Regions from separate parts of the Homo sapiens genome. Here all the other regions are reported to be linked to region 1. Evidence: microRNA targets listed by miRTarBase, many of them from high-throughput screens and not tested one by one. Region 1 holds a microRNA gene; each other region holds the end of a gene's coding sequence.
What was found. The annotated mature microRNA hsa-miR-3713 reads GGUAUCCGUUUGGGGAUGGU and lies in region 1 at 1,136-1,155, shown strand. An mRNA with a match to its seed (bases 2 to 7 or 8) in the 3' UTR can be bound and repressed. Matches are read on the target gene's strand: a 7mer-m8 pairs with bases 2 to 8, a 7mer-A1 pairs with bases 2 to 7 and ends in A, and an 8mer does both.

Region 2: miRTarBase lists ZDHHC5 as a target of hsa-miR-3713. Seed matches in the 3' UTR shown: 7mer-A1 at 853-859.
Region 3: miRTarBase lists NARS1 as a target of hsa-miR-3713. Seed matches in the 3' UTR shown: 7mer-A1 at 580-586.

The regions. Positions count from the first base shown.
Region 1 is chr15:76,585,512-76,588,768 of GRCh38, forward strand. It overlaps MIR3713 (microRNA 3713), which reads left to right and starts at 1,136; the gene lies at 1,136-1,180. All of the region lies in intron 22 of SCAPER (S-phase cyclin A associated protein in the ER), which reads right to left.
Region 2 is chr11:57,699,633-57,702,889 of GRCh38, forward strand. ZDHHC5 (zDHHC palmitoyltransferase 5) reads left to right here. Exons shown (of 12, transcript NM_015457.3): 12 at 234-1,550. The coding sequence ends at 399. Among named protein-coding and RNA genes, the nearest start is that of MED19, 11 kb to the right of the region's middle.
Region 3 is chr18:57,598,714-57,601,970 of GRCh38, reverse strand. It overlaps NARS1 (asparaginyl-tRNA synthetase 1), which reads left to right. Exons shown (of 14, transcript NM_004539.4): 14 at 188-1,315. The coding sequence ends at 319. Among named protein-coding and RNA genes, the nearest start is that of FECH, 14 kb to the right of the region's middle.

The sequences.
Region 1 (3,257 bases):
ATATGCAGCCATAGCAACAGATATATATGAATCTAGCACTATTCTTAACAAGAATGCTGACATTTGACTGAAAATCAGCAGTACTGAGGGAGGCACAAGGACCATTTTAATTCACAGAATACAAGAGGCTTGTATTTCACCCTGAGGTAAATCAATTCTGAACCTATCCTTCAAGAAAGAATGCCAAATCAAGGGGATGCTTTGGTAATTTGAGCTACACCCCTGTCTCATTCCCTGCCTTCACAGAAGTACAACAAATAAAATAGCCCCTGTAAAGAAAAAAGCACTAGATTTTAATTCATACTATAAATAATTATAGAATGTCAGAGAAGTCAAGCTCTGAGAGCTATATTTTCCTCACAGTGCAAAAACAGGAGCTGCTTAGAGAGTGTAGTTTTTAACAACAGAAAGTTTTATTTGGATTCCTTCTGGCAGATAATTTTTCTAGCATGAAAAGAAGAAGTGAAGGCATTGTATCTCCCAACCTAGGAATATGAGAAGTATCTGTCAGGTAAATGGTTTTGTGAATAATGCTGTAAGATCAATATTTTCTTCTTAAAACTGGAACAAATTTCAGCAACTCTAAGCTCAAGTCTGTCATTGGTAAATATGAAATGTAAAAGTATCTCTCCCAGAATTCCTAACTTTTATCATAGTTAAGTTTGCATGGGGTGGTGGGGTGGTCCACTAGGATCATTTAGAAGATTTGTAAAAGTGTAAAAAAAGATACTTGGTCCATTTAGGAACTAAGATTGTTCTTTAGCATAATGGATAGGAAGACATAAATTAATTAACCTTTCATATCCTCTATTTGGAAGGTACATGGTCTAAATTTAGAGCTATTTTGAGACATTCATATCTGGAATTAATTAAATAAATTTAGGGCTTTATTTAGACATTCAGATCAGGAATTAGCCATTTCCCCAAGAAGCTCTTGTTTCTTTTACTGAGAAAAGATATTTCAAACCCCAAATCAGTGAGCACTAGAGATGCTCTTTGCTACTGAGTTGGGCATTCTTTTCATGCCTCTTCAATGAACAGAGCTAGAAAATAAATAAATGAATGTATATACATATGCATACATATATATGTGTGTATAAATGTGTGTGTGTATATTACATATACAGTTATCCTTGGTATCCGTTTGGGGATGGTTTCACTATCCCCAGATGGATACCAAAATCAGATGCTCAAGTCTACTAAATATCAGGGATATTGGTCTCTTCATCAGGGATATTTGTCTGTAGTTTTCTTTTTTTTTTATGTTCTTTCCTGGTTTTGGTATTAGGGTGATACTGGCTTCATAGAATGATTTAGGGAGGATTCCCTCTTTCTCTATCTCGTGGAATAGTGTCAGTAGAATTGGTACCAATTCTTCTTTGAATGCCTGATAGAATTCAGCTGTGAAACTGTCTGGTCCTGGATTTTTTTTTGTTGTTGTTGATAATTTTTAAATTATCATTAAATCTCACTGCTTGTTATTGGTCTGTTCAGGCTTCCTAATTCTTCCTGATTTAAGCTAGGAGGGTTGTATCTTTTCAGAAATTTATCCATCTCCTCTAGGTTTTCTAGTTTATGAACGTAAAGGTGTTCATAGTACCCTTGAATGATCTTTTGTATTTCTGTGGTGTCAGTTGTAATATCTCCCGTTTTATAATTGAGCTTATTTGGATCTTCCCAATCAATAGAATGGTCTGTTGATTTTATTTATCTTTTCAAAGAATCAGCTTTTTGTTTCATTTATCTGTTGTATTTATTTTTTGGTTTCTATTTCATTTAGTTCTGCTCTGATCTTGGTTATTTCTTTTCTTCTGCTGGGTTTGGGTTTGGTTTGTTCTTGTTTCTCTAGTTCATTGAGGTGTGATCTTAGATTGTCTATTTGTGCTCTTTCAGACTTTTTGATGAAGGCATTTAAGACTATGAACAACTTTCCTCTTTGCTGTATCCCAGAGATTTTGATAGGCTGTGTCACTGTTATTGTTCAGTTCAAAGAATATTTAAATTTCCATCTTGATTTCATTGTTGACCCAATGATCATTCAGGAGCAGGTTATTTAATTTCCATGTATTTGCATGGTTTTGAAAATTCCTTTTGGAGTTGATATCCAATTTTATTCCACTGTGGTCTGACAGAGTACATGATATAATTTCAGTTTTCTTAAATTTATTGAGACTTGTTTTGTGGCCTATCATATGGTCTACATTGGATAAATTTCCATACAACTGATTAATAGAATGTATATTCTGTGGCTGTTGGGTAGAAATATCTGTTAAGTCCCTTTGTTCTAGGATATAGTTTAAATACATGGTTTCCTTGTTGACTTTCTGTCTTGATGACCTGCCTAGTGCTGTCAGTGGAGTACTGAAGTCCCCCACTATTACTGTGCTACTGTCTTTCTCATTTCTTTTTCTTTTCTTTTTTTTTTTTTAAGACAGAGTCTTGCTCTGTCGCCCAGGCTGCAGTGCAGTGGCACAATCTCAGCTCACTGCAAGCTCTGCCTCCCAGGTTCACACCATTCTCCTGCCTCAGCCTCCCGAGTAGCTGGGACTACAAGCGCCCACCACCATGCCTGGCTAATTTTTTGTATTTTTTAGTAGAGACGGGGTTTCACCGTGTTAGCCAGAATGGTCTTGATCTCCTGACCTCGTGATCTGCCTGCCTCAGCCTCCCAAAGTGCTGGGATTACAGGCGTGAGCCACCGCGCCCGGCCCTGTCTCTCTTATTTCTTAGGTAGCAGTAGTTGTTTTATAAATTTGGGAGCTCCAGTGTTAGGTGCATATATGTTTAGGATTGTGATATTTTCCTGTTGTACAACATCTTTCATCATTATATAATGTCCCTCTTTGTCTTTTTCAATCGCTGTTGCTTTGAAGTTTGCTTTGTCTGATATAAGAATAGCTACTCCTATTCGCTTTTGGTTTCCATTTGCATGGAATGTCTTTTTCTACCCCTTTACCTTAAGTTTATGTGAGTCCTTATGAGTTAGGTGAGTCTCTTGAAGTCAGCAGACGCTTGGTTAGTGAATTCTTACCCATTCTGCAATTCTGTATCTTTTGAGTGGAGCATTTAGGCCATTTACATTCAACGTGAGTATTGAGATGTGAGGTACTATCCCATTTGTTGTGCTGTTGGTTGCCTGTATAACTTGTTTGTCTTTAAATTGTATTTTTGTTTTATAGGTCCTGTGAGATTTACGCTTTAAAGAGGTTCTATTTTGATGTGTTTCTAGGATTTGCTTCAAGATTTAGAACTCCTTG
Region 2 (3,257 bases), not on the chromosome of region 1:
AGTATTTGCTTGGGAGTAAGTACATGTGATAGCTGTTACTAGAGAGTAGTAGTACATAGGAGAGATTGGGAATCAGGCTTATTTTAAGCAGGGCAATAAAGGGGAATGTTTGGGTAAGAAAGTATGGATATAGAAAAGAACATCATTTTTTTCTCTGAACCTTTGAAACTGTCTCCCTTTCCAATGTTTTCTGTCCCATTTCCTGACACCTACGTCTTGTCTCTTCTTTCCAGAGATGAAGTACAGCTGAAGACCACCTACAGCAAATCCAACGGGCAGCCCAAGAGCTTAGGCTCAGCCTCCCCTGGCCCAGGCCAGCCACCTCTCAGTAGCCCCACGAGGGGAGGAGTCAAGAAGGTGTCAGGGGTTGGTGGTACCACCTATGAGATTTCGGTGTGAGCCTTCGGCACCTCCCCTCCCCAACGCCTCTGCGCCTACACCAAAGGGCCCCAGGTGGCCACCTTCCTTCCCTCAAGGGGCTCCCCTCCCGTGCATGGACATTTTTTAAACCACCGATTCCAAGAGGATGAGGAGTGTTTTCTAAAATGCAGTAGGCTTGGGGAGTCGGAGAGTTGGGGCCCTGAGACTGGGGTAGCAACCCCCCCTTTTATCTTTTAAGACCTTCCCTTCCTTGATCCCTGGACCAGACTCAGTGGACATTTGTGCAATTGCTCGCCCTGGAGGGAACCAGATCATTTTTAAACCAGAAATAATTTTTTTTATTATTGTTACGGATTCTATTTTTTTCCTCTTCTGCGTTACCAGGTGTGTGTGTACATATAATATATATATATATATATTATAAATATCAAAGAAATTATATATCTATCCTGGGATGGGAAAATGAGGGAGGGATACATATACGGAGGGGGATCTTACTCTTCCCATTCCTCAGACCAGCAGGAAAAGAGGGGAGACGTCAGTCTTTTTCCTGTGGTTCCCTCTCATTTGTCCCAGTTACTAACTACGGAAATAGCATCCTCTGCTGGTGCTAAGTGTGATTAGGAAGAAGCCTGGGGAGAGGTGAGTCTGGAATTTTGGTCACAAGAGGGAAGGACTTGGAGAGGAGAATTAGTTTTCTAGGCTCATTGGCATTTAGTTTCCCTAGGAAAGGGGTCAAAACTTCAAGACACTGGTGGTGGTGGGAGATCAGGAAAATAACTTGGCCTAGCTCAAACAATATTGGATAATCCCCTCCTTGGGGGAGAGGGATTAGAGTGTGCTCCTACTGGCCCCTTGGAGCCTCCCCTAGCTTACACAGTTAACTTGATTTTAAAATCCAAGGCCAGGAGAGAAGAATCCAAAAAGCAATATTTTTCATCACATGCCAAAAACGGGGGATAGAGAGAAGGAGTGGCAGGCCTAGGCCCCTCCGATTGTCCCTTGGGGGTTACCCCTCAGCCCACCTCACTATGGTGCTGGGTAGAGGGGATACCTGGGTTCTAACCTCTAAATAGGGGAGATCCCAGCCTCCACAAAGAGGCCCTTTTATTTTTTATTCTGATTAGCCATTTTAAACCAACGAGGAATAAAAAGAAATCCTGATCTAACCAGCGCCCCCTGACTTGTGTTATTTTGTCTGGTTGAGACAGGGTGAACGATCTCTGGTGGGAAGTTATCAGTGACAACCTCATAAACTTCTCTGGTCCCAGCCCATCTTTAGGCAAGACTATAATGAAATTAGCCACTTAACAACTAAAAAAATAAAAAAGAGACCCAGTGCGGTGGCTTATACCTGTAATCCCAGCACTGAGGGAGGCTGAGGCAAGAGGATCACTTGAGCCCAGGAGTTCCAGACCAACCTGGGCAACATAGAGACTCCATTTCTAAAAACAACAGGTCCTGTTTTTATTTGGGTGATTTAATTCAAAAATTCCTGAAAAAAGGTCTCTTGAAATCACCAAAACTGCTTGTTATTTGAAAGCTTAGAGAACTCTTAAAAGTTGTTTCTTTCAAGAGACAGGGCCTCATTCTGGTTGCCCAGGCTGGAGGGCAGTGGCACAATCAGATCACTATATCCTCAAATTCCTGGGCTCAAGGGATCTTCCCACCTCAGCCTTCTGTGAAGCTAGGACTTACAGTTGCATGCCACCATGCTTAGCTAATTTTTTTTTTTTTGGTAGAGATAGACTCTCAACCAATTTTGCCCAGACTGATCTCGAACTTCTGGCCTTGAGCAATCCTGCCTTGGCCTCCCAAAGCATTGGGATTACAGGCATGAGCCACCATGCCCAGCTACAGTTGTTTTTTAATACAGGATTTAGTCTCTGGAAAGTAAAGCTAATTTTGGAAACAGCCAAAGGTGACATAGTAACAGGTATGAAAGCCTGTTGAAGGCAGGTTAACTAGATATCGGTGTCAGTTCAATTAGATATATTGCATTTTATTGGACAAAAGCTGTGCTCTAATTTTAAATAGGTATCCTTAGACACTAAATCTCAAGCAGTTGACCAGAGCCCTTTAATTACTCAAAATTTAAGAATATAAGCTCTTAGCCGGGCGTGGTGGCTCACGCCTGTAGTCCCAGCACTTTGGGAGGCCGAAGCGGGCTGATCACAATGTCAGGAGATCGAGACCATCCTGGCTAACACAGTGAAACCCCATCTCTACTAAAAATAACAAAAAACTAGCCTGGCGTGGTGCGGGCGCCTGTAGTCCCAGCTACTTGGGAGGCTGAGGCAGGAGAACGGCGTGAACCTGGGAGGCGGAGCTTGCAGTGAGCCGAGATCACGCCACTGCACTCCAGCCTGGGTGACAGAGCAAGACTCCGTCTCAGGAAAAAAAAAAAAAAAAAAAAAAAAAAAAATATATATATATATATATACTCTTATTTGGGTGCAGTAGCTCACACCTGTAATCCCAGCACCTTGGGAGGCTAAGGCAGGTGGATCACCTGAGGTCAGGAGTTCAAGACCAGCTTGGCCAAAATGGTGAAACCCCGTCTGTACTAAAAATGCAAAAATTAGCTGGGCGTTGGTTATGGGTGCCTGTAATCCTGGCTATTTGGGAAGCTGAGGTGGGAGAATCACCTGAACCCAGGAGGTGCAGGTTGCAGTGAGCTGAGATTGCACTACTACACTCCAACATGGGCGACAGAGCAAGACTCTTTCTCCAAAATTTAAAAAAAAAAAAAAAAAAAAAATATATATATATATATACAAAAATTAGCCAGGTGTGGTGACGCACACTTGTAGTCCCAGCTACTTGGGAGGCTGAGGTACAAGAATCACTTGAACCCAGGAGGCAGAGGTTGCCGT
Region 3 (3,257 bases), not on the chromosome of region 1:
ATGCATGGTTCATGAAGGCATAGAGATTAAGTGCTGGGATTACAGGCACGAGCCACTGAATCTGGCCATAGTTGAATTCTTAACCACAGTGAGCTAACTCCTTTCATGGTGGAAAATTTTAACTGTCTTAGATGAAAGTTTTAACTTAAGTATTTACTCCTCTTTCTTTCTTTCTTTTTTTAAACAGAGAAAATACGGTACATGTCCCCATGGAGGATATGGCTTGGGCTTGGAACGATTCTTAACGTGGATTCTGAATAGGTATCACATCCGAGACGTGTGCTTATACCCTCGATTTGTCCAGCGTTGCACGCCATAACCATTTTCTCCAGAAGCGTGGAGGAAAGATTATGAAAGGAACAGGCTCTTTAAAAAAGAAAACAAAAAGCCAGAATCTTCCTTTTTTTGTTTCATTGGGGTTTCTCTTTCTGTTTTTCTTTCTACTACCATAAAAACTATCTCAAATCACCTGAACATCAAGTGATATTAAGGTTGTCATCTTAAGAAAAAATATCCATTTTTTTCTTAAGTTCGGGAAACAAAGTTCGGGGAAAATACCTGGCATGAAACTGTAGTTAGGGATACATTTCAGCATTTTACTCACTTTATCCAAGTTATTCATTTTATTCAAGTTATATGTATGTATAATTCAACAATTTTAGATTATGGTGTAAGATACTCCAGTAACTTATCTTTCTGTCCTTTTAAGTGTACCTTGAATTCTTTGATTTATTTTATTGCATCAATGAATTAAAACAAAAATCTTGGGGGAAGAAATTGGCAATATCGTATAAAAATCTGCTCATATTAGAACACAGTATAATTCAGCAGTAAACACTAGAATCAAATGAATAGCCTTTTGTATCAGTTATTAATCTTTTCTAACTCTGCTTAGCTGCTAATAATCCTGAGGCATAGAAATTGAAGAATTTGTAAAAATAGAATTGCCTTAAAGGATTTGAAGTAAGAACATAATTTTGGGGAGAGTTTTTTAGTGATTCACAGTATCCCTCTTAGCATTAATTTAAGGTAAAGAGGCAGATTGATTTTCCCTCTTTCCTGGTAATTCCTAAGTAATTAAGAATAAATAAGTTCCAAAAGAAATTGTAGCTGGAATCTTAATAACAATTGTGAGTGGCTGTTTGAGTTGCCCCCACCATGTCCTTAGATCTAATCTGTGCTACCTTATTAACTCACAGCAGGCTTACTGAATGGCTTCATTTCAGATTTAGTTGATTTCTCCACCAAATGCATGTCATGTATTCTCAATAGGCTGTATTCCCAGCAGTCAATAAATGAACACCCGTAAAAACTCTTTGCTGGCTTAATTTTCTTAAAGCTAAACATCTCTTTGTCACATTCGTTCATGCTTTTGCAATTATTTTATCTTTTTTATGATGTATATATGTGAAATTAAGTACTACTAAATTTAGTAGATATTGCTAACGTTATATGGTAATGAGAACGAATGATTTTTTAACGTTAGATATGTGGGTCATGGTTAAATCTTTTTTGTAATCTTTTTTGTGTTACTGTTGGACACATTAGATTTTATCCTGTTTTGCAATTAAGTGAAATGACAGGTCAAAATGAGGCATTTAGGCTGGGTGCAGTGGCTCACACCTGTAATCCCTCCACTTTGGGAGACCAAGGCGGGCAGATCATCTGAAGTCAGGAGTTCAAGACCAGCCTGAGCAACATGGTAAAACCCCATCTCTACAAAAATAAAAAAGTTAGCCAGGCATGATGGCAGGTGCCTGTAATCCCAGCTACCCAGGAGGCTGAGGCAAGAGAATTGCTTGAACCCCGGAGGCAGAGGTTGCAGTGAGCCAAGATTGCACCATTGCACTCCAGCCTGGGCTATAGAGCGAGACTGTCTCAAAAAAAAAAAAAAAAACAAAGGAAGAAATGATGCATTTATAATCTATTCAGCCTGCATCTTTAAATAAAAAATACTTGGAAGAGTGTGAATGAGCTGTAGATGACTTCAACTAAGCAATTCATTTTATCAGAATTAAAGTGAAGAGGTTAGGCTCAGTTAGCCTTAATTTTAATGGTGTAAACAGGTCAAAGTTTTAAAATATTAAAGGAGAGCCAGGATATGGATAAGGGAGTTAAGGTGGTGACCTCAGGCCGAGAGACTGAGCACGGTGAGCAGCAAACCTCACGCGTGTGGACTTCACTCCCTTCGCTGTGTAGTTACTACCCTAATTCAGGTGTCACAGATGCCATCCCGCATTCCCATGGCTAGCTCACAAACACCCCTGCCCTCTCAGGACTTCCATCACGTGACTTTCTCCTCCCTGAAACTCTCTGCTTTTCATACCAAAAACCCCTCCACCTTTGGCACTTGTGTGACCTGCTCAGTTTTGGAGACAAACAGGAGGCTAATTCAATTGCTTAAATATCAACTTGCCCTCTTAAATGTCCTTCAGCCATTTCAAGCGACCCAGTTTCCCACCTTGCCGTTCAGCCCCTGCCACCTTGCTGCCTCGTAATGGTTCCTAAAAATGTTGTCCTTAATACGTAGAGTAGTTCAACTCTGTGAAAAGCAATCTTGGCAGCACAGTGGGATCATTTGGGGACCTTAAAAATAATGGTGTTTGGGCCTTACCCCAGGCCAGTTGAATCTGAATTTCAGAAATGGGACCAGGGTATTTTTTAAAAGCTCCCCAGGGGAGGTTGTTGCACAGTGAGGTTGACAGTCGCCAGGTGGCTTCCTCCTACTTCTAAACTCAACCTTAAGCCTCTCTTATTATTGCTGTAGGTTCTCTATTGATTTTGTATTAATCTCTGTAGTTGAAATGGGAACACTGAGGGCTGAGAAACTTCAAAGCTTGAATTTTGAATTGCCATAGAATAAGTATATTTCATCCAGCCCTTCTGGGAAAAAAGGGATGTCATGATATACAAATACTGCAATTTCTAGTATTTGGAAATTGCTGGTTAATGACTCAGTTTCTTATGCTGAAAAGTTTCCTTCTGCCTTATGGATCATAACCAATGTGATGATCAGGTGAAGAACATCTTTGAAGAGATATTGATAAACTTTGTTTGTGGGACAAAGACTAGTTTCTACAGTCAAAATCAAGTTTGTATTGGATAAAACTTGTCTTAGTACCCCAACTTACAGAAATGAAGGTGTTCAAAAGTTTTAGCTTTTTTTCAGTATTTACCTCCAAATTGCTAAATAACATGCTTATATTACTTTATTGATTTTTCAGTTTTAGGCGTTATTTATTGCCCTTCTCTGGCAT